4 linked regions of the Homo sapiens genome follow. The protein of the gene in region 4 binds, or shares a complex with, the protein of the main gene of each other region. Each region holds a gene or a part of one and is shown on either strand. Other genes may lie near its edges.

Evidence for each region.
Region 1: MED26 (region 4) and MED31 share a complex: the UniProt entries of both Homo sapiens proteins name them as parts of the mediator complex.
Region 2: MED26 (region 4) and MED16 share a complex: the UniProt entries of both Homo sapiens proteins name them as parts of the mediator complex.
Region 3: MED26 (region 4) and MED23 share a complex: the UniProt entries of both Homo sapiens proteins name them as parts of the mediator complex.

The regions. Positions count from the first base shown.
Region 1 is NC_000017.11:6,642,678-6,649,016, forward strand, and holds the end of MED31 (mediator of RNA polymerase II transcription subunit 31), read right to left. Parts: intron 1,983-6,339; coding exon 1,790-1,982; 3' UTR 634-1,789; downstream 1-633. Other genes in the region: TXNDC17 (thioredoxin domain-containing protein 17), read left to right, coding at 274-342. UniProt on the Homo sapiens protein: Component of the Mediator complex, a coactivator involved in the regulated transcription of nearly all RNA polymerase II-dependent genes.
Region 2 is NC_000019.10:876,059-883,602, reverse strand, and holds part of MED16 (mediator of RNA polymerase II transcription subunit 16), read left to right. Parts: intron 1-1,888; coding exon 1,889-2,044; intron 2,045-3,454; coding exon 3,455-3,666; intron 3,667-6,422; coding exon 6,423-6,629; intron 6,630-7,544. UniProt on the Homo sapiens protein: Component of the Mediator complex, a coactivator involved in the regulated transcription of nearly all RNA polymerase II-dependent genes.
Region 3 is NC_000006.12:131,596,939-131,604,482, reverse strand, and holds part of MED23 (mediator of RNA polymerase II transcription subunit 23), read left to right. Parts: intron 1-162; coding exon 163-305; intron 306-1,278; coding exon 1,279-1,453; intron 1,454-2,101; coding exon 2,102-2,265; intron 2,266-4,320; coding exon 4,321-4,445; intron 4,446-4,972; coding exon of another isoform or gene 4,973-4,978; exon of another isoform or gene 4,979-5,016; intron 5,017-5,721; coding exon 5,722-5,927; intron 5,928-6,015; coding exon 6,016-6,196; intron 6,197-7,544. UniProt on the Homo sapiens protein: Required for transcriptional activation subsequent to the assembly of the pre-initiation complex. Component of the Mediator complex, a coactivator involved in the regulated transcription of nearly all RNA polymerase II-dependent genes.
Region 4 is NC_000019.10:16,575,986-16,583,529, forward strand, and holds part of MED26 (mediator of RNA polymerase II transcription subunit 26), read right to left. Parts: intron 2,830-7,544; exon of another isoform or gene 2,425-2,829; coding exon 2,350-2,424; intron 2,289-2,349; exon of another isoform or gene 2,181-2,288; intron 1,698-2,180; coding exon 42-1,697; 3' UTR 1-41. UniProt on the Homo sapiens protein: Component of the Mediator complex, a coactivator involved in the regulated transcription of nearly all RNA polymerase II-dependent genes.

The sequences.
Region 1 (6,339 bases), on a different chromosome or scaffold from region 4:
AGGGGAAGAAGAGGGCACTGGGCTTGCTGTCTCCTGTTTTAGTCTGTGGAGCTTCCTGGTATTTGGGGTTTAAGTCTCTTGAGCCAAGTATGTTAGTGATTCATCTTACAGCAAATATATTGATTCTTTCATAAAACTTGTTATAACTAGATGATAGTTTCTGAATTGCGTAATTTCTGTGTTCAAAGATGAGTGTCATTCAAGGCAGAACTCATTCCACTCCTAATAACGTTTTATAGAAGTAGTGAAGATTTGACTGTTTTTCTCTTACAGCCTCAAAAACTGGTAGAATCTGAGTGTCTTCAGGCCAACCTGGTGGAAATGTTGTTCTCTGAAGATTAAGATTTTAGGATGGCAATCATGTCTTGATGTCCTGATTTGTTCTAGTATCAATAAACTGTATACTTGCTTTGAATTCATGTTAGCAATAAATGATGTTAAAAAAACTGGCATGTGTCTAAACAATAGAGTGCTATTAAAATGCCCATGAACCTTTAGTTTGCCTGTAATACATGGATATTTTTAAGATATAAAGAAGTCTTCAGAAATAGCAGTAAAGGCTCAAAGGAACGTATTCTTGAAGGTGACGGAAATACCTAAAAACTCCTAAAGGTGCAGAGCACACCTTCCAAATCTCTCAAAAGATCAGTATCTTTTATTTTAAGTTATCTCCATCTGCAAAGCAACTGATGATATTCCTGAAACCCCTTCTTTGATTTTGGAATGTAGAACCTAACCTCACCACTGAAGGAAAGCACATGACCTCTAATCTAGCCTCTGCTTAATTCAGGCAGTTTTGTTTTGTTTAATAAAAAACAGACTCCTGAGCACTAGAAGCAGTTTGTTTTGCAGCTGTCTCAATGTGCTTTACTTGGGATGAGGCAGGTGGCGGAGAGCGGCCGGAAAGACTCTATAACCCAGTTCTGGGAAGAACTCCAAGCTGGGAGTCAGTCACACTGACTCTACCACTTACTAGCTGTGTAACCACAGGCAAGTTACTCACCCCGTCCAAACCTCAGTTTTCTCTTCTATAAACAAGGTTCTTAGAATAAAATGAGAATTCAAGGAAGCACTTAACATAGCACCTGGTTTGTGGTACCTCCCAAATCAATGGTAGCTTTCCCAAATGAACACAAGTATTTGAGGCTCCTCATGTTTGTTCTAAAGTCAAGAGTCCAGTTAGTAACTAACCACTAGTTGTCCTGCCATGACTAGGTCAAGTGAGGCCACAGTGATTCAGTGATTCTTAAAGCCACCTTGCAAAGCAGGTAATACAGTTATTTCCTGTCCTGCAGAATTCAAGAACCTTTATGCAGTTCCTGTCCTATGATTTAAAGAGGTCAGTGACTCCGCTACTCTCACTACATCTTAGAGTAGAGTGGTAGAGTAGTTGATCTGAGACAGTAAGGTTCCAGGAGATGGTCTTGCCCTACTATATGTCAGGAACAGCTAGCCTTAGAATTCAGTATACTTGGTGGCCCACCCCTACCCCATGCCCCAGTGCCTTATTTGGTCTAAAGCACCTAACTTTTCCATTCTTAATCAGCTGATTATGCTAAATGCGTAAAAAAGAAAAACACCTTACAAATCCACAGGGAAATCAAAGAACAATTCAGGTTTAACAGAAATAGTCTATTAACAATAAAAAGTTGGATGAAAAAGCACACTAAAGGTTCTAGGGGCTACCATAATAAAGGTAGATAGGAAGAGTTTTCATTTTTTTTGTCTTCACTGTACAAAAGAAATACATTATATACATGTATTAAGTGCCTCGTTTGTATCCAGTTTTTCATTTTCCCGATGTGTTATTTTGCTGTTGCTGCTCTGCCAAGGCTTGCTGAAGGCGCATCCGCTTCCGGGAATAGTGCTGCCAATGTAGAATCTGCTGTTCATCAATAAATTTCGCACACTGAGCATTCACCAGCTCCTTTCGGAAGTGTTCATATTGGAGCAGCTCTAACATGTGTAAACACTGAGGGTACCTGGGTTTAAGTTTGTAAGTGAATGAACAACATAATTTAGGTAAATAATGCCAAGGTATAATTCAGTTATTCTCTTAAAAACGATCTTGTAGCCTACCATTTCTATAACAGTAACTTAGTACACTCTGGTAGCATAGGGTTTTTTCCCCGATTAGTCATCAAAGGTCAGTGTTCAATATTTTCGAAAATGAGAAGGTTTAAGTTCAGAAAGATTAAATTAACTTGCTCAAGACCACACAACACAGTAACTGGTAAGCAGAGTGAAAATTTAGGGACAAACCATGCTATTCCCTTCTAGCGGTTTCCAACGTGAAGAACATGAACATATTTTAGTAATTATGTGTTTAATTGATAGTTACTCATTTTTCCTTCAATAGGGATAAAAAGACAACTTTCATTTAAAAGTGAGTGTGAAAGAGGACTATGCGCATACATTGTACTCTTGTTGTCCACAGGGATATACCAATTCTGAAATTAGATATACTCTAGGATTGGACAAGCAAATATACTGTGGATAAGGACAGCCAAATTTCTGGCTATCAGAAAAGGAGTTATAGACATGGAAAGGAAAAAGGCTAGAATGAACCCTGTGTTACTGAGCTGGTATTGAAAACATCAGTATGTACTTACGGCTTTTAATATAGACATAGAATAAACATGTATATGTGTGTGCATGTATACACATACATACATATATATATAGTTCTTGAGCTTTGTGTACTGACAGGGCCTAGAAGCAATGACACTGTGGTACTAATGAACACACAATGACCAGACTGTGGTTTCCAAGGAGCAGGTTTCCTTGGAGAAAAGGGTGATTCAGGGATAAGACAGGAAAAGTACAAGATGAGCCTGGAACATTACGTAGTGCCAGAAGAAAAAGTGCTAAAAATTCCTGGGAGGATCAAAAGTATTCAGGAGCCAACTTGAAGGGCCTCCCAATGGCCAAATCTGGAATACTTAGCGCAAGAAAATACATAATTCTAATTCATAATTCTACTAAAAATAAGAATCCAAAAGTCCACACTAAATGGATGTAAATTTCTTTAATAAAATAATAGGAAACAAGGGAATATAATTCCTTACAATCGAATTCCAAACTAATAAATGCAGAATGATAGAATTAGAAAATCATCACAGTAAAAAATGTTTCAGGCAATTATCTTCAAAAGATGCTAAAACAGGCAAAATACATGTAATATGATATTTACATAGTCTCAAAGGATTTCCCTATAAGATACTTATTAAATACACAAGGAAAAATAGCAACTTAATATGGAGAAACCTAGACGGTACCACCCTCAACCAAGTTACCAAAATTTACGTCACCAGTAGTGGGACAAATAGACTTCATGTGACTGCAGATATATGAAGGATACAAATCATTTCTGTCATAGTCATGGAAAAGAAAAGACCACTGAGATGAAAGGAGACTAAGAAGACATGACAGCAAAATGCAACATACGGGCCTAGACTGGATCCTGCACTACATACAGCACACCAGCAGAACAACTGGCAAAATGTGAATGAGGTCTGTAGATTAGGTAATAATATTAATGTGCTGATTTTTGCTGATTGTAGTGTTACACATTTGGAATACGTGGGTGAACAAAATACAGGAATTATCTTTACTATTTTTCCAGCTATTTTGTAAGTGAAATTATTTCAAGTTGAAAAGACATAAAAGCTAACAGACAATTAAAATACATTAACATATAGGAAGTGTGGGGAAAAGAGATCAGATTGTTCCTGTGTCTACGTAGAAAAGGAAGACATAAGAAACTCCATTTTGATCTGTACTAAGAAAAATTGTTCTGCTTTGAGATGCTGTTAATCTGTAAATTTAGCCCCAACTCTGTGCCCCCAGAAACATGTGCTATATTGAATCAAGGTTTAATGGATTTAGGGCTGTGCAGGATGTGCCTTGTTAACAATATGTTTGCAGGCAGTATGCTTGGTAAAAGCCATCGCCATTCTCCATTCTCGATTAACCAGAGACACAATGCACTGCGGAAGGCCGCAGGGACCCCTGCCCAGAAAAGCCTGGGTATTGTCCAGGTTTCCCCCAACTGAGACAGCCTGAGATATGGCCTCGTGGGAAAGGAAAGACCTTACATCCCCCAGCCCGACACCTGTAAAGGGTCTGTGCTGAGGAGGAGTAGTGAAAGAGGGAGGCCTCTTTGCAGTTGAGATAAGATGAAGGCTTCTGTCTCCTGCTCGTCCCTGGGAATGGAATGTCTTAGTGTAAAGTCGACCATTCCCATTCGTTCTATTCTGAGATAGGAGAAAACCGCCCTGTGGCTGGAGGCGAGATATGCTGGCAGCAATACTGCTTTGTTGCTCTCTGCTAGTTAGATATTTGTGTAAAGTGAAACATAAATCTAGCCTATGTGCACATCCAGGCACAGTACCTTTCCTTGAACTTATTCATGATACAGATTCCTTTGCTCACGTTTCCCTGCTGACCTTCTCGCCACCTGTTGCCCTGCTACACTCGCCTCGCCAAGACAGTAAAAATAATGATCAATAAATACTGAAGGAACTCAGAGACCGGCACTGGTGCGGGTCCTCGCATGCTGAGTGTGCCGGTCCCCTGGGCCCACTGTTCTTTCTCTATACTTTGTGTCTTATTTCTTTTCTCATTCTTTCATCTCCACCTGACGAGAAATACCCACAGGTGTGGAGGGGCAGGCCCCCTTCAGGAAGTATGCAGATAAAGCCAAAGTTGCACAAGTGATATGCAAATGACTAAAGTGTGGAAAATAGGATACTACAGCAATGCTTCTAAAACTTTAATGTGTATATGGGTCACTTCTTAAAATGCAGATTGAATCCTTAGGCCTGGAGTGGGGCCTGAGCTCTGCATTTCTAAAAAGCTCCCAAATGAAACCAATGCTACTGATGTGAACACCACATTGAATAGAGGGCTTAATACCATGCTTCTAAGATAGTAACTTCCAAGACAGCAAAGATTTGCTATCCACACACTAAAAATACACAGTTGCTCTAATTGTTGGCTGCTTATGCTAGAATGCTCTATTCACACCTGCCCTGGCTAACTCCCTTTCATGACAGCATTAGTAGTTAAAATGACCAGGATGTTATGTTCCAGCCAGGTGGCCTTTAACAAGGTACTTAACCTCTCTAAGGTTCAGTTTCTTCAACTGTAAAATAATGTGACAACCAAGAGAATGGTCTCAAGTAGCATTTAGTCAATAACTAGAATTTAGACATGCAGTGATTATATCAGAATACCTTAGATGACAATAAAGAATCATACTCTGATAGGCTACAAGTCAACAAGATGAAATAGAAGCAGTATAAAAGGGAAGTTCTGCATTTGGTGTTTTTAAAAAGAAACAACATAGGGAGAACCCAACAGCATGATGAAAATAAGAACTGAAGGATTTTAGTTGACATAATGCTTCCAGCAAGTCAACAATGTGATCCTCTTCCCCACTCCCACCCCCAAAAGTAATATAAACTTAAGTTGAATTAACAGAGGTGTATGACCACATGAAGAAAAGAAAGGACCTCTGGCCCACTGTACTCTGACCACACCTGAAGGCCTGTGTTTAGTTCTTGGCTGAACTGCATAAAGTACAACTGCCAAATATCCAAAGGAGGGAACCTCAACTCATGAGAACTCTGGACACCATGGCACAATGGCAGAGGGTAGTTGAGAAAAATAGATGGAAGAGAGATGTTATAGTGGCACCTACTGGCTATCAATGAAGCAGGCCAAGTGGTAGAAAGTGTCTCTTCCACCAGGTGGAAAGCAGCTAGTAGTGACAGCTGCTCTCAGCTTCAGCCCAGTTGTTGACTTGGGAGAATTAAGATCTATGGTTACTAGATCTTCCAGATTTGAAAGAGTAGCTGGAAATCTGCATTTGTTATATACAACTTTCTGATCTTTAAATGTTGGCAAGTATTAAAAAAACTAAAATCTTCTGCAGACTGAATAAAACACCCAAAAGGGGCTAATTTGCAGTCTCTCTTGAATGTAAATATCTGGAAGGCTGTTGTCCTCAAGAGGGTATAGAATGGTTCTAGCTTCATCCAGGGACAAACAGACTGGGGCTACAAGGAGGTACATTATATCACAATATAAGGAAGAACTTTCTAATATCTGGCTAACAATCGAATCAGCTGTCCCTGACAGAGTAACACGGGCTCAATGGAAACCTCCAGAGTGTAGATGACCATCTCTCGGCAACGTTGTGGGTAAGATTAAACTTGTTGGTGGCTAAGGCTTCCAACACTGAGTCTGTAAATCTACATACATACAATATTCGTTGAAGTCTACTTTTCTTAAAAGTCTGTTCTTTGGATTATTAAATGGATAAAAAGCCAGAAA
Region 2 (7,544 bases), about 16 Mb from region 4:
CCACGTCTCACACACATGCCACAGCCTTTCTCAGGTCTCACATCCCTGGCAGCTGGGGGTCACTGGGACAGTCCCCACCGCACCCATCTCTCCCCCATCTCTCCCCCTACCGCCCCACGTGCCCACCATGCCAGGCTTTGGTCCCCGCCATGCCCAGCTCTTCACGCACCGCCCCACGTGCCCACCGTGCCAGGCTTCGGTCCCCGCCATGCCCAGCTCTTCACCCACCACCCCACGTGCCCACCGTGCCAGGCTTCGGTCCCCGCCATGCCCAGCTCTTCACCCACCGCCCCACGTGCCCACCATGCCAGGCTTCGGTCCCCGCCATGCCCAGCTCTTCACGCACCGCCCCACGTGCCCACCATGCCAGGCTTCGGTTCCTACCATGCCCAGCTCTTCACCCACTGCCCCACATCCCCACTTAGCAGCTTAGCTTCTCCCTGCCTCAAGTCCCCCCTCATTTAGGAATGCTGACCGCAGCCGTCAGTTGGATGGAGGAGGGGATGTAAATCGTGCTGTGAGGGTACCCTGGCCACTAGCTGGGGGTGTGGTCGTCATGGCAGCTGCCTCCCCCGGCGCTGGGGCGTTGAGTTTCCTGTCTTTCCTATGAGAGGCTCAATTCCATGAGGGCCAGCCACCCCTGACCACTGTGTGCCCTCTGGGCGTCTCAGCCACTCTCTGGGCCTGTTTCCCCCCAGGGAATGCTGCTCACAGGACCCCTATACGGGTTTGCAGGAGGTCAAGGCTCTGTGACCGTGATGGCCCGTCCGGGGCAGAGACCTCATGATGCGGGTGGCACAGAGCAGCTGCGTGGTAGTCAGCTTCAGCCGAGTAACAAGCCAGCCCCAAACTGAGCAGCTCAGGCCAGCAGCCCTGCACTGTTTCTGTTTCTGTGGCTGCCTCAGCTGCGCTCTCCTGGTTCCCACGTGTCTGCGGTTAGCAGCCGAGGTGGCGTGGCCTGTCCACTGGCCGCACATGCTCCAGCAGGCCGGCTCCAGCTGCCCTCCGTGTCCCACATGCAGCCACAGCAGGACCCCCCACACGTGCTCTCTGGGCCACTGTTTTTGTTTTTTGTTTTTGAGCTAGGCTCTTGCTGTGTTGCCCAGGCTGGAGTGCAGTGGCGTGATCTTGGCTCACTGCAGCCTCATCTTCCTGGGCTCGAGCAATCCTACCTCAGCCTCCTGAGTAGCTGGGACTACAGGCGTGTGCAGGCGTGCATCACCACCACACACAGCTAATGTTTACTGTGTTTTTTTTGTAGAGAATGGGGTCTTGCTGTGTTGTCCAGGCTGGTCTTGAACTCCTGGACTCAAGCCATCCTCTGGCGTTGGCTTCCCAAAGTCTTGGGGTGGCAGATGTGAGCTGCTGTGCCCGGCCATGTCACATTTGCTAAGGCTTGGCCTGAGATTCCCAGAAGTCTCTGCCCTGTTGGGAGGAGCTGCGTCTTCACGCAGGGGCTGTCAGGCAGCGGATCTGTGGGTGCGACCATCCCGCATGGCTTTATTGGAATTGTAGATGAGGAGGGATGGGAATCCCGGCTGAGCTGGCTAAGGCCGAGCGAGTGTTAGGGTTTGCATGGCTGCAGGTCTGAGGTGGCGCCGTCTCCCCACTGTCTGCCCCATCGGGGGTGAGATGGTGCCGGCCCACAGGTTTCCATGAAATCCCAGGGCCCACCTTGGGTCACGTGCCCATCCTGGAACCAATGAGTGGCCGAGGCACGAAGCGCTCGGATTGGCCGGGCCTGGTCTTCTGGGCATGGGAGCAGGGCGGCATGAGACCTGGGAAGGGCCCTGGGCAGGTTGCACACCAGGCCATGCTGGACTCCTGCGGCTGTCTCAGCCTGTCTTTACTCCATTGCCTTCCTGTTTTCCTGCCCCTGATTTTTCAGTTGGCGACAAACAGCCCACAATTCTCAAATGGCGGATCCTATCGGCCACCAACGATCTGGACCGTGTGTCGGCCGTGGCGCTGCCCAAGCTGCCCATCTCGCTCACCAACACCGACCTCAAGGTGGCCAGCGACACACAGTTCTACCCTGGCCTCGGTACGGTGGAGCCAGCGGCAGCCACGCGGGGCCTCAGTTCACACCAGGGGAGTTGGGCCCTGAGCACAGGCCACGGGGTCGTGGGAGCTCACACCAGAGGACGTGGGCTCTGAGCACAGGCCATGGGGCTGTAGGAGCTCAGCCTTCTGGGTTCTGATGGGTTCCCAATTAGGAGGCAGATCTCATCTTTCGGGATCTGTGAGGCTGGCAGACAGATCCAGTGTTCTTTAATATGTAAAGAGTCATTGCAAATCAACAAGGGAGCCTGGGGAACTTGGTGGAACTCCTTCCTGGGTAGGCGGCATGTGTCCTCTCTGTGCTGCAGCAGCCATAATGTGGTCCTGAGCTCAAACCGTGGCATCCGTGCCCATGAGTGAGTCTGCACACTCTTCAGTGCCTACCCTATTTGCTCAGCTGTAAAATGTGGACAAGTCGGCCCTAGCTCAGGCCCTTTCTTCCCCCAGCTCCCGTTCTTCCCTGGTTCCCTGGAAAGAGCATTTATCAAAACCCGCTCGGGGCTCAGGGCTGTTCCTCAGAGCCTGCAGAGAGGTTGAGGGGATGCAGTTCCCTGCTCCAAAACCCTTGGTTTATGCTCCATTTTCCAGGCTCTATTTTTTTTTTTCTTTTTTTTTTTGAGTTGGAGTCTCATTCTGTTGCCCAGGCTGGAGTGCAGTGGTGTGATCTCGGCTCACTGCAACCTCCGCCTCCTGGGTTCAAGCGATTCTCCTTCCTGCCTCAGCCTCCCGAGTAGCTGGGACTACAGGCGCGTGCTGCCACGCCCGGCTAATTTTTTGTATTTTAGTAGAGACGGGGTTTCACCGGTGTTGCCCAGGCTGGTCTCGAACCCCTGAGCTCAGGCAATCTGCCCGCCTCAGCCTCCCAAAGTGCTAGGATTACAGGCGTGAGCCACCGCGCCCGGCTTTGCAGCCTCTCTACTGCAGGGACTCCTTTCATATTCTCTTTTCCATGAGCTTTGGGCTCTGGACCCCACCTCCCCCCGGCCCTCGTACAATGGCAGACCCCAGTGTGAGTGACAGCCCCAGCCCACCACCCTAAGATGCCTCTCTTTGGGACGCCAGGAGCCCCAACCCTTGGTCCCCCACCTGTAGTGCCCCCCTCCCCTGCGCTCCTTGAGGGGCGTGTCAGCCAGGACATGGGCCCAGCTGGGAGGGGCGGGGAGGGGCTGGGAGCAGTGTGGCCAAGGCTGCTGGCTCCTGCTCCCCTGGTGCTCAGGGACTGTGTAACTAAAGAAAGAGTGGCTGGGGGCACGGGCGCTGGATGCCGATTGGCGGGGGCTGACCCCCTGGATGGGCAGCCCCGGCTCTCCACACCCTGCAGAGCAGGAGGCCCCTCCCCCGGCGGGCGTGTCCTGGGCCCTGCCCATGTCTAAGCAGTGCCTGTGCCCCACAGGGCTGGCCCTGGCCTTCCACGACGGCAGCGTCCACATCGTGCACCGGCTCTCACTGCAGACCATGGCCGTCTTCTACAGCTCCGCGGCCCCGAGGCCTGTGGATGAGCCGGCCATGAAGCGCCCCCGCACCGCGGGCCCCGCCGTCCACTTAAAGGCTATGCAGCTATCGTGGACGTCACTGGCCCTGGTGGGGATTGACAGCCACGGGAAGGTGAGCTGCTGGGGCACGTGGGGCCGGGGCTGGTGGGCATTGACAACCAGGGGAAGGCGAGCTGCTGGGCATTGACAACCAGGGGAAGGTGAGCTGCTGGGGCACGTGGGGCTGGCCCTGGTGGGGATTGACAGCCAGGGGAAGGCGAGCTGCTGGGGCACGTGGGGCTGGGGCTGGTGGGCATTGACAACCAGGGGAAGGCGAGCTGCTGGGCATTGACAACCAGGGGAAGGCGAGCTGCTGGGGCACGTGGGGCTGGGGCTGGTGGGCATTGACAACCAGGGGAACGTGAGCTGCTGGGGCACGTGGGGCTGGGCTTGGGGGGCATTGACAACCACGGGAAGGTGAGCTGCTGGGCATTGACAACCAGGGGAAGGCGAGCTGCTGGGGCGTGGCCCTGGTAGGCATTGACAACCAGGGAAAGGCGAGCTGCTGGGGCACGTGGGGCTGGGGCTGGTGGGCATTGACAACCAGGGGAAGGCGAGCTGCTGGGGCACGTGGGGCTGGGGTTGGTGGGCATTGACAACCAGGGAAAGGTGAGCTGCTGGGGCATGTGCGGCTGGGGCTGGTGGGCATTGACAACCAGGGGAAGGTGAGCTGCTGGGGCACGTGGGGCTGGGCTTGGTGGGCATTGACAACCATGGGAAGGTGAGCTGCTGGGCATTGACAACCAGAGGAAGGCGAGCTGCTGGGGCATGTGGGGCTCGGCTTGGTGGGCATTGACAACCATGGGAAGGTGAGCTGCTGGGCATTGACAACCAGGGGAAGGCGAGCTGCTGGGGCACGTGGGGCTGGGGCTGGGGCTGGGGCTGGGGGGTATTGACAACCAGGGGAAGGCGAGCTGCTGGGGCACGTGGGGCTGGGGCTGGGGCTGGTGGGCATTGACAACCGGGGGAAGGTGAGCTGCTGGGACATGTGGGGCTGGGGCTGGGGCTGGTGGGCATTGATAGCCAGGGGAAGGTGAGCTGCTGGGGCACGTGGAGCTGCGGCCGGGGCCGGGGCCGGGGCCGGGGCCGGGGCTGGTGGACATTGACAACCAGGGAAAGGTGAGCTGCTGGGGCACGTGGGGCTGGGGCTGGGGCTGGGGCTGGTGGGCATTGACAACCAGGGGAAGGGGAGCTGCTGGGGCACGTGGGGCTGGGGCTGGTGGGCATTGACAACCAGGGGAAGGGGAGCTGCTGGGGCACGTGGGGCTGGCCCTGGTGGGGATTGACAACCAGGGGAAGGCGAGCTGCTGGGGCACGTGGGGTTGGGGCTGTTGGGCATTGACAACCAGGGGAAGGTGAGCTGCTGGGGCACGTGGGGCTGGGGTTGTGGCTGGTGGGCGTTGACAACCACGGGAAGGTGAGCTGCTGGGGCATGTGGGGCTGGGGCTGGGGCTGGTGGGCATTGACAACCACGGGAAGGTGAGCTGCTGGGGCACGTGGGGCTGGGGCTGGTGGGCATTGACAGCCAGGGGAAGGTGAGCTGCTGGGGCACGTGGGGCCGGGGCCGGGGCCGGGGCTGGGGCTGGTGGACATTGACAACCAGGGAAAGGTGAGCTGCTGGGGCACGTGGGGCTGGGGCTGGGGCTGGGGCTGGTGGGCATTGACAACCACGGGAAGGTGAGCTGCTGGGGCACGTGGGGCTGGGGCTGGTGGGCATTGACAACCAGGGGAAGGCGAGCTGCTGGGGCCCGTGGGGCTGGGGCTGGGGCTGGGGCTGGTGGGCATTGACAACCAGGGGAAGGTGAGCTGCTGGGGCACGTGGGGCTGGGCTCGGTGGGCATTGACAACCACGGGAAGGTGAGCTGCTGAGCATTGACAACCAGGGGAAGGTGAGTTGCTGGGGCACGTGGCGCTGGGGCTGGGGCTGGGGGGCATTGACAGCCAGGGGAAGGCGAGCTGCTGGGGCACGTGGGGCTGGGGCTGGGGCTGGTGGGCGTTGACAACCACGGAAAGGTGAGCTGCTGGGGCACGTGGGGCTGGGGCTGGGGCTGGGGCTGGTGGGCATTGACAACCACGGGAAGGTGAGCTGCTGGGGCACGTGGGGCTGGGGCTGGTGGGCATTGACAACCAGGGGAAGGCGAGCTGCTGGGGCATGTGGGGCTGGGCTTGGTGGGCATTGACAACCACGGGAAGGCGAGCTGCTGGGGCACGTGGGGCTGGGGCTGGGGCTGGGGCTGGGGCTGGTGGGCATTGACAACCAGGGGAAGGTGAGCTGCTGGGGCACGTGGGGCAGGGGCTGGTGGGCATTGACAACCAGGGGAAGGCGAGCTGCTGGGGCACGTGGGTCTGGGGCTGGGGCTGGGGCTGGGAGGGTGCCAGAGGGAGGCGCCCCCGGGGGAAGGGACCACAGGTGCAAGCCCCTCGCCAGCCCCTGCCTGCGCTGCCTTGTCTGTGTGATGGGTTCGTCTTGTTGAGCGAGGTCAGTGGGGTGGCTCACAGCACGTATTAGGAGCTTCGTAACTAGGAGCTGTTGAGAGGACCGCCTTTCACGGGGTAGACTCCTCAGGTAAAGCAGACGAGTGTAAGCCTGGCTCGGCATCCAGTGCAGTCGGGGCTCAGGGAGGTTTCCTTCCCTGTTCCCAGAGGCATTGTGCATGACCCTGACAGAAAGGTACAGACGCTACAGACACATGCGCGCACACAGGCCCACACACGGGCGTGCGCGCACACAGATCCACACACGTGCCGCAGCCCCAGGGCCCCATTCCTCTCCCGGCTGAGGGCGCAGCCCCATCTCACCGGGCTCTCCTTGGGCTCTGTCTCTGGCAGCTGAGCGTGCTCCGCCTCTCACCTTCCATGGGCCACCCGCTGGAGGTGGGGCTGGCGCTGCGGCACCTGCTCTTCCTGCTGGAGTACTGCATGGTGACCGGCTACGACTGGTGGGACATCCTGCTGCACGTGCAGCCCAGTATGGTACAGAGCCTGGTGGAGAAGCTGCACGAGGAGTACACGCGCCAGACCGCTGCCCTGCAGCAGGTGGGGGCCCGTGGCAGGTGGGGCCCCGTGGCAGGTGGGGGCCCTGTGGCAGGTGGGGGCCCCGTGGCAGGTGGGGCCCCGTGGCAGGTGGGGGCCCCGTGGCAGGTGGTCCCGTGCCAGGTGGGGCTGTCCCTGTGGCAGGCAGGGGCCCCGTGGTCAGTAAAGTGCCAGCAGCAGGGAGGGAGTTCCCTTGGAGGGTGGAGGAGGTCTCTGCAGCAGTTGTAGAGGTCCCCACGGCAGATGTGGGGGTTGTGGCAGCTGGAGGGGTTTCCCTGCGGCAGGTTGGGGGCTCTATGGCAGGCGGAGGGCAAGAGGGGCAGGTAGCCTGTGGCAGGTGAGGCTGCGTGTGGGGTGTGCTCCCAGAGGCCCGTCCAGGAAAGCTGCACCTCAGAGAAGCAGTTTCCTTCCTTACCTGGGAAGTTTCTTCTGTAACACGTTAAGCCCCACAGGTAAGGCCTGATCCCCCCTGGACGGCTCCCCTCTCCAGTGTTCCCAGTCTGGAGGTATCTTTCTAAGCCATCCTCTCAGAATGTGATGGGTACCAGGATGCACACCCGGTGGCCCTGTGGTGTGAGGCCTCAGCAAACACGGTCAGAAGATGAACACACAGAGACCCGCCCGTCGGAAGGAGAGGAGGGAGCGGATACGGAGGCCCACGTGCCAGAAGGGTCCCTTGCAGTGGTGTGGTTATGTGCCTGCAATCCCAGAGTGTCCTCGAAGGACCTCAGATCTAACGAGCTCAGCCGGCAGCTGCACGTGGGACCAGCCCTCTGAGCTTCACTTGTTTTCCTCTGTGCCATCAGAAACCAATACGAAGATAAAATGGGAAAAAAAAAATCCCATTCACGGCACAGCCTGCCGAGAAACGCGTGAGACCCAGGCGGGGGCTGCGAGGCTAAACCCCAGCGTGGCTGG
Region 3 (7,544 bases), on a different chromosome or scaffold from region 4:
CATCCTTACCAAGTGTCCTGCACAGCTTAAACACATTAAATGAATCAACTTCATTTGAATCATTTAAGTTCAGATTTATACTAAGTTACTTCTAAGTAGAGTAGCCCCTATGTTTATGTCAAAAATATGGATTTTTATTTTCTTCCCTTTTTTTCTCCTCAGCCTTATTCACAGCATTGCAACCAGGGTGATAAAACTTGCTCATGCAAAGTCCAGTGTGGCCTTGGCTCCAGCCCTAGTGGAAACTTACAGTCGTTTATTGGTCTATATGGAAATAGAGTCTTTGGGCATCAAAGGATTTATCAGTAAGACAGGACTTTCTGGTGTTTATAACTATTAACCCATTCATTAACTCTAAAGTTACTTTTCTAGGTCCTGGGGACACAGCAGAGAACAAGTCACCACCATGATGGAGCTTATGGAGGAGGACATTAAATAAATGAAATATACAATATGTCAGATGATACATGTTATAGAGAAAAATAAAGCAAAAAGGAATAGGAAGTGTGAGGGTTGGGGGGTTTGTTGCATTTTTAAGTAAAGTGGTAAGAAAAGGTTAATGTGCTAGGTGCCTGGGATGCAGTGAGCAGGATAGACCTGGTCCCTGTCCTCATGCAAATGGATTCTGCCTGAGGCAGCAATGCTGTCCTCCAGTGCATACGAAGTCTGACTGGAAATAAAGAAGGAATTTTCCTACCTTGCAGAAGATACATTATAATGTCTCATTTATTATATAGTTCTAAAATAATAGATACTTTCTGATATAGAAGTGTTTTTCTGATTCATGGTAATTCCAGCTTTTCACGAATACAGCATAGTCTTAATTTTAACCACAATAACTCTTCTTAGATAACTGATTGTTGAACAAAACTTTCTTGGGGGTAGGAGGAAACAAGGGCAGGTATAATACAATTTTTTGTATTAAAAAGTGAACCTCATACTTCAAAAGGTATGGAACATTAATTGTCTAAAAATAAAAGATATCAGAATTGAGAAGATTAATGTTTTTTCATATCTTGTCTCATTTTATTTTTCCAGATAAACATGATTATCAATTGCCAAATCCCAGGAAAAAAGCAAACTTGATATTATAGTTAGGATCTGAATTTTTCCTTACTGTTAAAGTAGAAAATAAGAAAATATGGAGAATATATATGTGTGTGGGCGTGTGTATTTTCACAATCAAATCTTTATATTTTACTCAATGTGACTTTCTTCAAATATCTTTTCATGCATAGCCTTTAATAATTGGTACCTTAAATTGTCTTTTTCCTCCAGGTCAGCTTTTGCCAACTGTTTTCAAATCACATGCATGGGGGATCTTACACACACTCCTTGAGATGTTTAGCTACCGGATGCATCATATTCAGCCTCATTACAGAGTTCAGCTCCTGAGTCATCTTCATACTTTGGCTGCAGTTGCACAAACAAACCAGAACCAGCTCCATCTTTGGTGAGCTCATTGAAGACCATCTTTCCTTAAGATTTATTAGAAACTTTCTTGGAGATGAGGTTCTTAATCCTTTACCTTTACCTTATAGTTTTTTTTTTTATTATTATTCATCTGTCATAAAACTTCTCTGCTTCTAAAGTATTTTGTTTCCAGTATAGGAGCAGAGTCCAGCTTTTTAAATAGAAACTGATTAAGATAGTTGAGTCCTTCCTTCAGGATCTTTGGACTGAGAATTAGTACTTCCAGGGTATTTATTATTATGTTGTAACTTAGCCCTTTAGAATGCTGGTTTTAAGTATACTTCAGATTATGGTTAAAGTATCATGTCACATTGATTTTGCTTTACATTAAAATATATTTTAGATAGAAAAATATAATTTTTGAAATGCAGTATCTCCAGGTGAAATTTTTTAGTCCTATAGGCGACAAGCCATCTTTTTCAAATGTGTAAAAAGTCACGATTTTCACTATAAAATTGGACACATTAGGTTTTTTAAACAAATTAAGCAACATTTATTCTCACACAAAAGTGTTTTTTTAAAGAAGGGATAGTCATAGATTGCATGTTTTTCCATTGTAATTAACCTTAGATTTAATTCCATAATTCTGAAATTTTTTTACATTTCTTTTTATTCTCCCAATTTTCAGTGTCGAGAGCACTGCTCTCAGGCTTATAACAGCATTAGGTAGCTCAGAGGTACAACCGCAGTTTACACGCTTCCTTAGTGATCCCAAAACAGTGCTCTCAGCAGAATCTGAAGAACTGAACCGAGCCTTGATATTGACCTTGGCTAGAGCAACTCATGTAACAGGTACGGTGAATATGTGACTACAAACAACAACAGATGAATTAAAGTGTGCCATGATTCTACTAATTACTATAGTTGTAACATACTAAAAAGATACTTTTCATTTGTTTGAAAAAAGCCTGTTGTTTTGATATCTTCACTATTTCACTCATTTATGGAAGCTCTTTTGTGTACCATCATTCTATTAATAACTGCGTTGAGCATCGTTTTCAGCTATCCATAATTTTAAAGTAGTAATACTTTAAGCTTTTTGGTCTCAGGACTGCTTTACACTCTTAAAAACAAAATTGAAATTCCCAAAGAGTTTCTGTTTATATGGATTATATCTATGGATATTTATTATATTAGATATTAAAATTAAGAAGTTTAAAAATATTTATTAATTTGTTTTTAAATAGCAATAATAAACATTACATGTTAATATATGATGTTATAAAAAAAGTATATTTTCTAAAGCAAAACTTTAGTGAGAAGAGGTGCCATTGTTTGACATTTTTGCTTCTCTAATATCTGGTGTAAAGGAAGACATAGTTTGGATTCTCATCTGCTTAGACATTTAATCCATTGAAGTTTTAGTTGAAGTAAGTGAAAAATGTGGCCTCACACAGATGAGGTTGGAAAGAGAGGAGTATTTTAATAGCTTTTTCAGATAATTGGGAATGTTCTTTGACATCACATGGAAAAATGATAGTTGCTTAAAGGTTAGCTGCAATATGGAATCCAAAACCCCCAGTAAACTTCATGTACTTTGTTACATTATAATCTGTACATCTGTTTTATACATTTAGTGGATTTTTAAATCCATGCATGTTTTGTAACTTCATGAATTATTCATTTTGAAAATACTGGTTCACTGAGTTACGTAGATCTAGCAAACGTTGACATTTTGTTTATACAGTATCAGAAAATTACATTTGTTAATATCACTGCAAAGTTTATTAGAAAAATCTAAGTTTTGGAATGCTATCATGTCGTGGTAGATACAGGTTTTCCAAAATTTCAATTTTTACTTGAAAGGTCAAATTTTATCATTGGAAAAAGTTACTATCATTTGTTTTCCTTAAAGTGACAAGCTCATTTTGTTAATTTTCAAGAAAATGTCTGCTAAATACGTAAGTCTAGCTAGCTATAGTTTTCTGTCAGACGTTCTTTCAAGTAAAATTGGAATTCAAAAAAAAAAAAGCAGCTGATTTAACTCAGTGCTCAGTCAGTCACACAAGTGCACAAGTGTTTTTCCTCAAGACACCCATCAAACTTGGAACACTAGGCATATGCTTCCCCTTTTGTTACATATGATGTTAAAAATAGGTGTCGAGATTGACACTGGCACTTTTCTTTCACTGAGTGCATGTGCTGGAGAATACAAAGCCTTTTCATCTAGTCTGGCACCACTGTTTGATTTGTGCTTAGGACCAGCAGTTTTACCACCATTGCTTTTGTACCGTCAGTGCTCATACCAAGTGAAAAAGCCTGATATCTTTTTATTATTATTTGACCTCATTGAATCTTTGAAGGGCTATTGGGGAATCCCCAAGAGGTCTACAGACCACACTTGAGAACTGATGTTTTAAAGAGATAGTTATTGGTTTTAGCAACCTCAAATACGTTTATGTAAATTATTTTGTTTTACATAAAGAACCCTCTTCAATTCTGAGATTTATACATGCATTATGTAATTATTTCACTCACCAAAAAAGATATCTTTCTTTATTCTGTTCCCTTGGCCGAATAAAGTACTACTAAATCAGTGTCAAAGTAAATGAACAGTAGTGATGGGCTTGTATTACTGTTATCGCTGGTACTCTGTAACCTCAAAAAAAGAGATTTCAAATGTCTTTTGTCATCTTTTCATAAACTGTTCTCATATTTTCTAATGTGATCATCCAGATCATTCATAAACTAAGCAAATTTAGGTTCTAAGCTGAATATAACTAGTTAAGCAGTGAATGCACTGCAGTGAAATTCTCAGTGTACATAATTATTATTTTCGCTATAATCTTTTATGAATTGTGGATATAATCATTTATATCTGGATTACATCTATTTGTTTATGTTTAGATTTTTTTACAGGCTCTGATTCAATTCAGGGAACTTGGTGTAAAGACATACTTCAGACCATCATGAGTTTCACTCCTCATAATTGGGCTTCACACACCCTGAGCTGTTTTCCAGGCCCACTACAGGTAATTTGGTCTTGAATTACTTATTGAATGCACATGAAATCCTTCTTCCCATTCACAATGGTGTTCTAGAGTGAGTCTTGGTGACTTCTGAATAAAATTAGCTTTTATTTATTTTAAAAAATATTTAGGGGCTGGGCATGGTGGCACAAGCCTCTAGTCTTAACTGCTTGAGAGGCTGAGGCAAGGGGGATGGCTTGAGCCCAGGAATTCAGGTTCACAAGGAACTATGGTCACACCACTGTACCACAGCCTGGGTGACAGAGCCAGACCCTGTCTGTAGAAAAAAAAAAAAAAGTCATTACTTACAAAATCTCTCAAGTTGTTCTGTGTCCTACTCTGGTACTGGACATGTTTCTAAAAATTTAATTATTATGGTTTCATCTTAGTTAACAGTTTTAAGGGGAGGAAGAGTAGAAAGAGGAAAAAAATAAAAGTGAAAAAAATTGAAAAAGAGAAAAAAATAGTTAATGGTTTTAGAATCTCATGAAAATTAACATAGTACCTGAAAACTTTTTTCTCTCTCATAGAACTGAAATGGGGAGAAGTATAACGTAATGGAGCTTCACAGAGTGTGCGTAATATGACACTTCACTGAATTTTTTTCTTAATCACAGAAAAACTGTAAACCTGGCTTTTCTAATAAGGAGAAAGGCAAACCTCATCTGTCTTCTCCTTTTCAGAAAAAATGTTAGGCATGATGAACATCCATTTTTCATAACTCCTGGTAGGGCTAGAGCATTTGGTTTTTAAACTTACCAAATCACCTGGAGGGCTTGCTAAGCTGCAGTTGGCTGGGCCCCCAGCCACAGAGCTTCTGATTCAGTAAATCTGGGATAAGGTCTGAGAATTTTGCATTTCTTGTAAGACCCAGATGATGCTGATACCGCTGGTGTTGGGACCACACTCTGAGAATCACTGGGCTAGTGCAATGGATTTTCCTCAAAGACACTAACATATGTAGCCAAAGGGTAGAGACACTTCATTCTTTTTTTTCTTTTTAAGATTGGCGGAAGTATCAACAGATGATTGAAGAAGCTTTGAATTCAGGCTTACTTAGAATTTCCATTTAGGAAATCTAGGAAAAGGAATCTTGGAGATAATCTAGTCAAGCTTATGTATTTTCCAGACACAGAAATTCAGGCCTTAATTGCTGAGTTGCTCAAGGTGACCTAGAGTTTATTAGTGTCAGAATCAAGTCTAGAACTGGTTTATTAACTCCATATCCAGTGCTCTTTCTACTATAACCAATGAAATAAACTTCTAATCCTCTTTTTAGGCATTCTTCAAACAAAATAATGTGCCTCAGGAAAGCCGTTTTAATCTGAAAAAAAATGTGGAGGAGGAGTATAGGAAGTGGAAGTCAATGAGCAACGAAAACGACATTATTACCCACTTCTCTATGCAGGGCTCCCCTCCTCTCTTTCTTTGTCTTCTCTGGAAAATGCTCTTGGAAACAGATCATATTAATCAGATTGGCTATAGGTAAGTCAAAAACCTAATTTGCATTCCATTTGGCAAATTGTTGTATCCATACAACAATGGAGTTTATGTTTTACTCTCTGCCTTCCAGAGTATTAGAGAGAATTGGAGCCAGGGCCTTGGTAGCCCATGTGAGGACATTTGCAGATTTCCTGGTATATGAGTTTTCTACATCAGCAGGGGGTCAGCAACTCAATAAATGCATTGAAATTCTTAATGACATGGTATGGAAGTATAACATTGTTACACTGGACAGATTAATTCTCTGCCTGGTAAGAATAAATACATTTCTAAGCTTATTCTCTTAGATCAAGATGTATGACTAATATATGTTATGCCAATCTGCTCTATATTGCTTTGAAGGATTTAATGAATTTATACTATATCAAGCATTGCTGTCACTTCCCTAAAGAGCCGGAAATTTTCCAATTTCTGTTTTTGTTTGTTTTTGTTTTTTTGTTTGTTTTTTGAGACAGGGTCTCGCTCTGTCGCCCAGTGCAGTGGCGTGATCATGGCTCACTGCAGCCTCAACCTCCTGGTCTCAAGCAATCTCCTCCTGCCTCAGCCTCCTGAGTAGCTGGGAGTACAGGCATATGCTACCATACCCAGCTAGTTTTTTTTCTTTTTAACTTTTTTATAGAGATGGGGTTTCTCCATGTTGCCCAGGCTGGTCTCGAACTCCTGGGCTGAAGCAATCCTCCCTCTTCAGCTTCCCAAAGTGCTGGGATTACAGGCGTGAGCTACTGCTTCCAGCCCCAATTTCCTTATTCATTCATTTAATAAGTACATATTGAATATCAACTGTGTTCTATGTATAGAAGGTACAGAAGTAAATAAAATAGATGTGGTCCTAGCCTTGTGATACTTTGAAAATATGAGCAATTAGACCCTGAGTTGATTCTCCAAAACTCCCACTAGAGGGAGGAAGTAGCAGTAAGTCACTGTGTTTCTTTACAGAGTGCGAATATAACCATTTCTGTACACTTTGGTAACAAACATTCCCCAAATGTTTTTTTCTTCTCCTGACTTTGATGTCTATTTCCAGCAGAATTTTTTTTTTCTTTTTTTTTTTTTTTTTTTTTTGATATGGAGTCTTTCTCTGTCGCCCAGGCTGGAGTGCAGTGGCGTGATGTTGGCTCACTGCAAGCTCTGCCTTCCGGGTTCACGCCATTATCCTGCCTCAGCCTCCCAAGTAGCTGGGACTACAGGTGCCCACCACCACACCCGGCTAATTTTTTGTATTTTTAGTAGAGATGGGGTTTCACCGTGTTAGCCAGGATGGGCTCAATCTCCTGACCTCGTGTTCTGCCCGCCTCGGCCTCCGAAAGTTCTGGGATTACAAGTGTGAGCCACCGCGCCTGGCCTTCGGGTAGATTTCTTTAAAAAGATATTGAAGTAGGCTGGAAAATGCTACATTGAAAAAAATTCTATGGCGGTGACATTTGGAGTGGCATAGTTTAACGTTAACCCCTTAGCTGTGGAGCATAGATATAAAAGTAGTTATTATATTTTAGGGGGAATAATGTAAGTCTATAAATCAATAAGATGTCAGGATAAGATGGAGGTGTAGAAAAAATATTTCTAGGAAACAGTGAGAAATCTTATCTGCTTAGGTGATAG
Region 4 (7,544 bases):
CTTCTGCAAGATGGGAATGCACTTTGTGGCTGACAGGCCGGTCAGTCCAAGCAGACATAAGGCAGAATGTTCAAGCGCCCGTCGTCGCCGTGCGGATCGAGCGATATGCACTGCGTCCAGTCATACCAGTTACCCTGTGTGTCCTGACACCCGTTCACCCCCGGCCACTGGCTGGCCTGGATTCTGTCGAGATCGTCCTGTGTGACCTCCCGGGTCAGACCAGGGAGGTCCGTGGGCGGGCTTTGAGGCACCAGCACATGCAGCTGCCTGGCCCCTTGCCGGGTGCTCTCCTCCTGCTTCAGGTACTCAGACATGAAGTGGTGAGCCCCTGGGGTCTGCGCGCCCGATGATGAGAGCAGGCTGCTCTGCCGGCTCAGGTAGGACTGGATGATCTCGTTGCGTGACAGCTCCTTCCAGTTCGTCTGTTCGAAGGGGCTCTGGAGGCTGGCCTTGGCCTCCTGCTTGTCCAGCTCTGTCCTGGACTGCTGCTCCATGTGCACAGGGCTGTCTGCCCGCACTGGCTCTTTCTGGGTCAGAGGTTTGATCTGTCTCGTCATGGGGTCAAAGGTGAGCTTCCGCTCTTTTAACCGGACAGGCTTGACGCCCGCCTCAGCCACCTGCCCGTCCAAGTTAACCGTATAGTCTCGAGGTCGGTACCTCTTCTTCTTTTTACTGTCCGAGCCCCCTGAGGAGGCAGCATCACTGTCCGCCTTGGAGGAGTCTGGGGAAAAGCCTGCCCGGGACAGGAGGGGCTCGGCTGGGGACAGCCCTGCCTTGCAGCCCGGCCCCGCCAGCCGCTGGTGGCTCTCAGGCTGCTCAAGCCAGCACACTGGGCTTTCCGCACTGGGCAGCAGCTCGAGCCGCCGTACGGGGGGTGTGGACGGCTGTGCCAGTGGAAGCGGTGACGGCACCTGTGTGGCATCGAGTGCCTGGGGCCGCGGTGAGGGGCTGGGCACGGAGCCCTTGGGTGCATACAAGCTCTGCTGCCGGGCAAAGGAGCCCTCATGCCGTGAGTTCCGAGGACTGAAAGAGCAGCGAGGGGGTCCCTTGGGATGGGGAGGCCCCGGAGTCTCGTCCACCCTGTCCAGCTGCTGCAGCACCGAAGCCTTTGGCTGCAAGCAGGGTCCAGGGGGCTTGCCCAGGCCCGGGGAGCTGGTGTGCGGTCGCACGGCGTTGACGGGGATCTTGCCACTGTGCTTGTCATTCTCGTCACGCTCCAGGCGGCTGCCCTCTGGGCCTGCATGCCCACTGCCATCCAGGGAGCTGGCGAAGCTCTCTGGACTCCCACTGATCCCGTTGGTGGGGAGGGGGGATGAGTTGGGGACCAGGGGGTCGTGGCTAGCTTTGGAGACCTTGGGTGGCGGCCCTGGGTGGCCGAGGTCACGCTGGTCACCCCGGCGCTTGCGGCTGCCCAGCCTGTCCAGCCGCTGCCCGGGCAGCCTCTGGAGGTCATTGCGGCTCTTCAGGTCATGGATGCTCCTGGGTGGGCCAGCCGCCCCCACCTCCGGCCGGCAGTTGTGTGCGCCCCCGTTGGCAGAGCCGGTGGCCCCCGCCAGCCCCCGCAGCGCCGCCTCATGCTGGTGTGCCGGCTCGATGAGCTTCTGCCAGCTCCGCAGCAGCTTCTTGGCCCGCTTGGCGAGCTCCTCGTTCTTGGTTTTCTTGCGGACGTCGTTGATGAGCTTCCCAAGTCGTGTTTCCTACAACCAGAGGGAGATGATGACATACTTTCGGGACAGGAACTTCTCCATGAGCTGAGCCAGAAATGGTGGGAAGTGGCCCTGACAGTGAAATGACCCGGTTCCCACTGAGCCCTAAACTGCCAGCTTCCCTGACACAAAACTTCTGGGGATTTCCGGTCCTTTGTGACAATATAAATTCTCAAACCTAGTTCCCAGACCTTCAGGGTCCCAGGTGGCTTCTCAGCAGTGCTGTCACCCAGGCTCCTGGTGTCAGGGGGCTGTGGACCATCAAGGCCACTGTAAGGACACTGCCAGAGAGGCTTCCTGGGTGAGAGGGTGCTGTGGCCGAGGCGACAGCACAGAGGGTCCGCTTCAAGTGGAGGGTTGGGGATGGTGCCTCTCACTGGAGCCTCCTCCAAGCACACCTCTCCTGATGTCCCCACGTGCCCACGAAGTGTGCTGGGCATGTAGGATGGGAGTAACACCACTTGGTCTCTGCAGTGCCCGTGGGAGAGCAAGATCGCGAGGCACGAGCTGTGAGGGCACACCGCCTCTCTTGGTCCTCCGAAGCAAAGACACTGATGCTCCCAGAAGCTGCGGAAGGACCTGGTTGGTACCATCCCCTGCCCCCCGTTCTGCCCTCCCAAATGCTGGGGTCTGGGATACTCACCTCAAGTGCCTCTTTGGTAATAGGGTATTTCTCCAGGCTGGAGATGACTTCCAGCACCGCCACCATGTTCCGGATCTGTGGAAATAAAAAGCCATTTGTCAGGTCCCTGTCCTTCTCCACTGGGAGGCTGGAACACCCTGCCCCAGCCTGCTCCAGTCTCTCCCCAACCCCAGAGCAAGAGGAGCCAGCAGCACTGAAGCCCCCACTCCATGTCGTCTCCTACCTGCTCCCTGGGCCAACCTGGCACCCAGTGCTCATCCTCACCTGCCGTCTGACCTCCTCCAGTGTGTGGTGTGCGGGCTGCCCCAAGCCCTCCAGTGTACATGGTACATACCCACCCACCTGCTGAAACCCAGGATGCCTGTGGAACAAGAGCTGCTCCTGATACTTAAGATGACCTCTACTCTGCCATCTGATGGGAGTGGGAGAGGAGACACGGAAGAATTCATCGAATAAAATCCACAAAGCTTAAAAGATCAATACACAGGCCAGGCGCGGTGGCTGACACCTGTAATCCCAGCACTTTGGGAGGCTGACGAAGGCGGATCAGAAGGTCAGGAGTTTGAGACCAGCCTGGCCAACACAGTGAAACCCCATCTCTATTAAAAATACAAAAATTAGTTGGGTGTGCTGGCATGCGCCTGTAGTTCCAGCTACTTGGGAGGCTGAGGCACGAGAACCACTTGAACCCGGGAGGCGGAGGGTGTAGTGAGCTGAGACCACACCACTGCACTCCAGCCTGGGTGACAGAGCAAGACTCCGTGTAAAAAATAATAATAATAATAATAATGATAAACCAGTCAATCTGAATCCAAAGACACCATAAAGAGAGCAGAAAGTCACAAAGTGGGAGAAGGCATAGGCCACAGGCCCCCAAGGAGCTGTATCTGGAACACAGAATGCCTGTACAGCAGTACAGCTGACCAGGAGCCCGGCGTAGACTGGCCACAAGACAGGAACAGGCACACGGCAATGAAATGTCAGTGCTGATGCTCAGCCTCTCAGCTTTATCGATAATCAGGAAAACTCAAACTGAACCCACAAATGGATACATGATACACGTGCCCCACTGACAACACTAGGTACTTCGGGGGATACAGCTGACTTTGGGGACTGCTGGGCTTTGTCTGGCAGAGTGAAGCATGAACACATCCCATGACCAAGTAATCCCTCCCTTTTAGGATCTTGCTAGGAGCCACACCTTGTTCTAAGCACTTCCCACACATTACTGACTCCCTTAATTGTTACAACAAGAATTCCTACCACTCAACCACCACCTCCAGCAACTACAGGTTTCTGGTGGGCTGGCTAGCGGGTGGGAGCCCAGGGGCCCTGAGGAAACCACAGTGAGTAGATTACTCAACTCCCCCCCACCCCAACATGATAAAGGAGTTAAGCGGGCACATGATACAAATTAAAACAGCATAAAAGGGCACACAAGGAAATGGGCATCTCTGACCCAGCCACTGTAGCATTTCCTTGCATTTTTTTCCAAAAATATCCCTTGTGTATATAGGCGTATACATCCACACTTATCACATATTTCAAAACCAAACTGACAGTGGTTCTTGCCTTTTCTGACTTAATGTCAGCAATGTCCAGCCTCAAACAGAGCCCCTCATTTGGCTCACCATCCCTTCCAGAGTGGGGAAGGCCCGACTTGAATGCTGTGGGACACTTAGGCACTTTCCGTCCGCCATTACAAAATAAGGCTGCAACCGACGGCAGTGACAGACCTGACTCTGAGCTAGTGCACAGACAGCCATGGAGGAGCTGGGGCTCCACATCCATGCAGGGTGGTCACCTCACCCCCAGGGAGGCTGCTCTATTCCATTCCCACCAGGCCACATCCTTGCCAAGACTGCGTGGCAAGAGTTTCCGTAACACATGATTGTAAACTTAGCATCTTACACAGCACACATTTATCATCTTAGGCTCTAGGGCTCAGAAATCAGGTCTGAGTCTCACTGGGCTGGGATCCTCTCTAGAGGATCCATTTCCTGCTCCTTCAGGTGTTAGCAGAGTTCAGCTCTTATTTTGTTTTTTTTTTTGAGATGAAGTTTCACTCTTGTCGCCCAGGCTGGAGTGCAATGGCACGATCTCGGCTCACTGCAACCTCCGTCTCCTGGGTTCAAGCAATTCTCCTGCCTCAGCCTCCCGAGTAGCTGAGATTATAGGCACCCGCCACCACGCCCAGCTAATTTTTGTATTTTTTTTTAGTAGGGACAGGGTTTCACCATGTTGAAGGCTGGTCTTGAACTCCTGACCTCAGGTGATCTGCCCTCCTCGGCCTCCCAAAGTGCTGGGATTACAAGCGTGAGCCACTGCACCCGGCCCAGAGTTCAGCTCTTTACACTACAGGAATGAGGCCCATTTTCTTGCTGGTTGTCATCCGAAGCCATTCCCAGCTTCTGGAGGGCACTGCATCCAGCTCACACCCCCTCCCCTTATGCTCAAAGCCAGCTACAGGCTGAGTCCTCACCCGGCATCTCTCTGACCCAGCCAGGATAGGTGCCATCTCTAAGGACTCCCTGACTAGGCAGGGCCTGCCCAGATGATCTCGGATCACCTCCCCATCTCCAGGCTGTTCCCTTAGTCACATCTGTCATGTACGGTACCATGTGCCCAGGCTCCAGGACTAGAATGTGGACGTCCTTGAGGGCTGTTAATTCTGCTGGCCTCATGGATTCTGGCTTTTCTACTCTTCTGCCCCACTTCCAGTGGGAGGCAGCCACTGCCACTCCCTCCCTTCCCGTGTTGTCTCCTCTGGGTGTAAAGTTGCAGAGCCACGACAGCAGTCCCCGCAGAACTCCCACAAAGCTGCCCTGCCAATGGGCCCATTTGCTCTTTGGCAACAACGGCCTTGCCTTGCAATGTTCTCCATTCAGGGCTCCAAATGACCCTGAAAACCCTGCTTCAAGCTGTGTCATGGTGGGGGTGGACGGGTGATATGAGGGGAGATACAGTCCTGTCCGCACTCCTCGTGCAATGGGCAGGGATCAGTGCAGGGGAAGACTGTGCGATGAGGAGGCCAGTCCCAGACAGACAGCAAGGCCAACCACTCCCTGCCCCAGGCACTCCAGCACCGACTCAGTCCCTGGGCTTGCCACATGGCTTCACCTCCACCCTGCTGACCTCACCCTGGTATATTTGGAGCCCTGGTTCCCCACATACTCCTGAAGCAGCAGTCCTTGCAGAGCAGAACACTGCCCAGACCCAGCTAGCCTGGTGGCACAAAGTGTCCTTGTCCTTGGGCAGACACCATCCTGCTGCCAGACAAGAGGGAGGAGACAGAACACCTGGGCAACCCCAGGGTCTGGTACTGAGCTGGTGCCCCAGAAATCACCGCTGAACTAACAGCCAGTCCCAAGAGTCTCCTGGAAACTGTGTGGGAGCTGGGGACACCAGGCGAAGGTGTGAGGGCCCTGTGACTGTGTATCCTTACCCTTGGCCCCTCCCCTGCCTTATGAGCCACGCTTAAGCGTGTGCAGAGAGGCCTTCAGCCTCTAGGAGCCCCAAGGGAAATGCTACAGCCTTGGCAGTCCCCTTTCTGTCCCCACCGTGTGAGCTGCTCACCTGAGGAGTAGAGGAGCCCGCCTGCTCTACCTGTAAGGTGCTAGAAACCCACAGTCCTACGCCGTAAACAGATGAACTCTGCCAACACCTGAAGGGGCAGAAAATGGATCCTCCAGAGAGGAGCGCAGCTCGCTGCTTCCTGGATCCCAGCCCGGTGAGACTGGAGCTGACTTCTGAGCCCTAGAGCCTGAGATGATAAATGTGTGTTGTGTAAGACACAGAGAGAGGGTGAGTGTCCAGTGCGGCCACTCCCTGGAGCCAGCAGAAGGCAGTCAGTGATGTCAGCAGAGCTAAGGATGGGGGCAAGGTGAGACTGCCCTGCCCTGCGACCTCTGGGGCATTGATGTCAAGCAGTCTGAACACTGTGTGGGGAGCACCACCTGGGCATCCAGACACAGGCCTCCCAGGCCCAGGAGGCAGACACTGAGCAATGCAGCGAGGAATCCCTGCAAAGGGCCTGGCCCCGACCCCAGGCACACTGAGCCAGAAGGCTCCACAGAGCCTCTTTATAGATGGCCACAGTCTGTCCCAAAGAACACTTAGCACCCAATTGGTGCTGGTCCCATAGGAGCAAAATAGGAGCTGGCTTCTGACCCTGGCCCTGGGGACCCTGCCTTAACAACCAACTGACCCCCCACCCAGGAGTGGCAGGTCTCCCACTCTCATGGAGGTGGCCCTCTGTGAGTGACAGAGACACCAGGACTCGTATGTGGCTGAGGGGAGGCTCCCGCTCTGACTCCAGGCCTGCTAAGTCCAGCATGAACCCTCAGGGCAGGGAGGCAGGCCACAGGGGGAGGGCAGCACCTAAGGTGGCCTCCCAGGGAGGTCAAAAAAGGATGTGGCAGAACGAGCTGTGTCCACCTGGGCTGGAGACCGACTTCCATGCTGGAAAGCAGAAAAGAGCTGGAGAAGGATGGGCAGGGAGCTGGCCAGACAGCACCAAAGCCCTGCGGCAGGGGAGAGGCCATGGGTAAGGACACCGGGAGGAAAAACAGACCCAAAAGACCCAAGGTGGCTCCTTCACAACCTGTCTTCTATCCCCCTTAGCGACTGCCCCCACAGACCACCTGCCCTTGCCCTGTTTCTGGGATGCCCTTGGCACCTGTCCATCTATCTGGGGAAGTACACTAGATCCTAATCTCAGCACAGACACAGTTTGACTCCACATGGGGAGCCGCTCCAGGCGATGGCCTCAAAAGATGGCTTTAAGGCAGCTCTTCAGGCTTGCCAGGGCCATGTCTGTGGCCCGATGGCCAATTGCAGCCTCTTGCTGTCAGGAATAGCCTGGCACATCTGAGGCCCCCTCCTCCTTTGGATTCTCCCTTGGGATTTGTTCCCAGTCCAAAAAAACCTCTCAAAACACCTGCCAAGTTGCTTTCCCAAAGGGGCAGGAATCCCGTCAGGAACTGTAGCCTCTCACTTCTCCACTAGGGACCCCTCAATAGATGCAGATGGGTCTGAACTTCCTTAACCATCAACGAAGACAGGCGTTGCCTCCCCTTTCTACCAACACTGACCGCCCCTGCCCACTTAATTTGCTTCAGTTTGGCCTCTTCATTGCTGCGGGAAGTGCCTGTGAAGGGCAAGGGTGTTGGGTGGGGGTGGGGGGTGTCGACAGC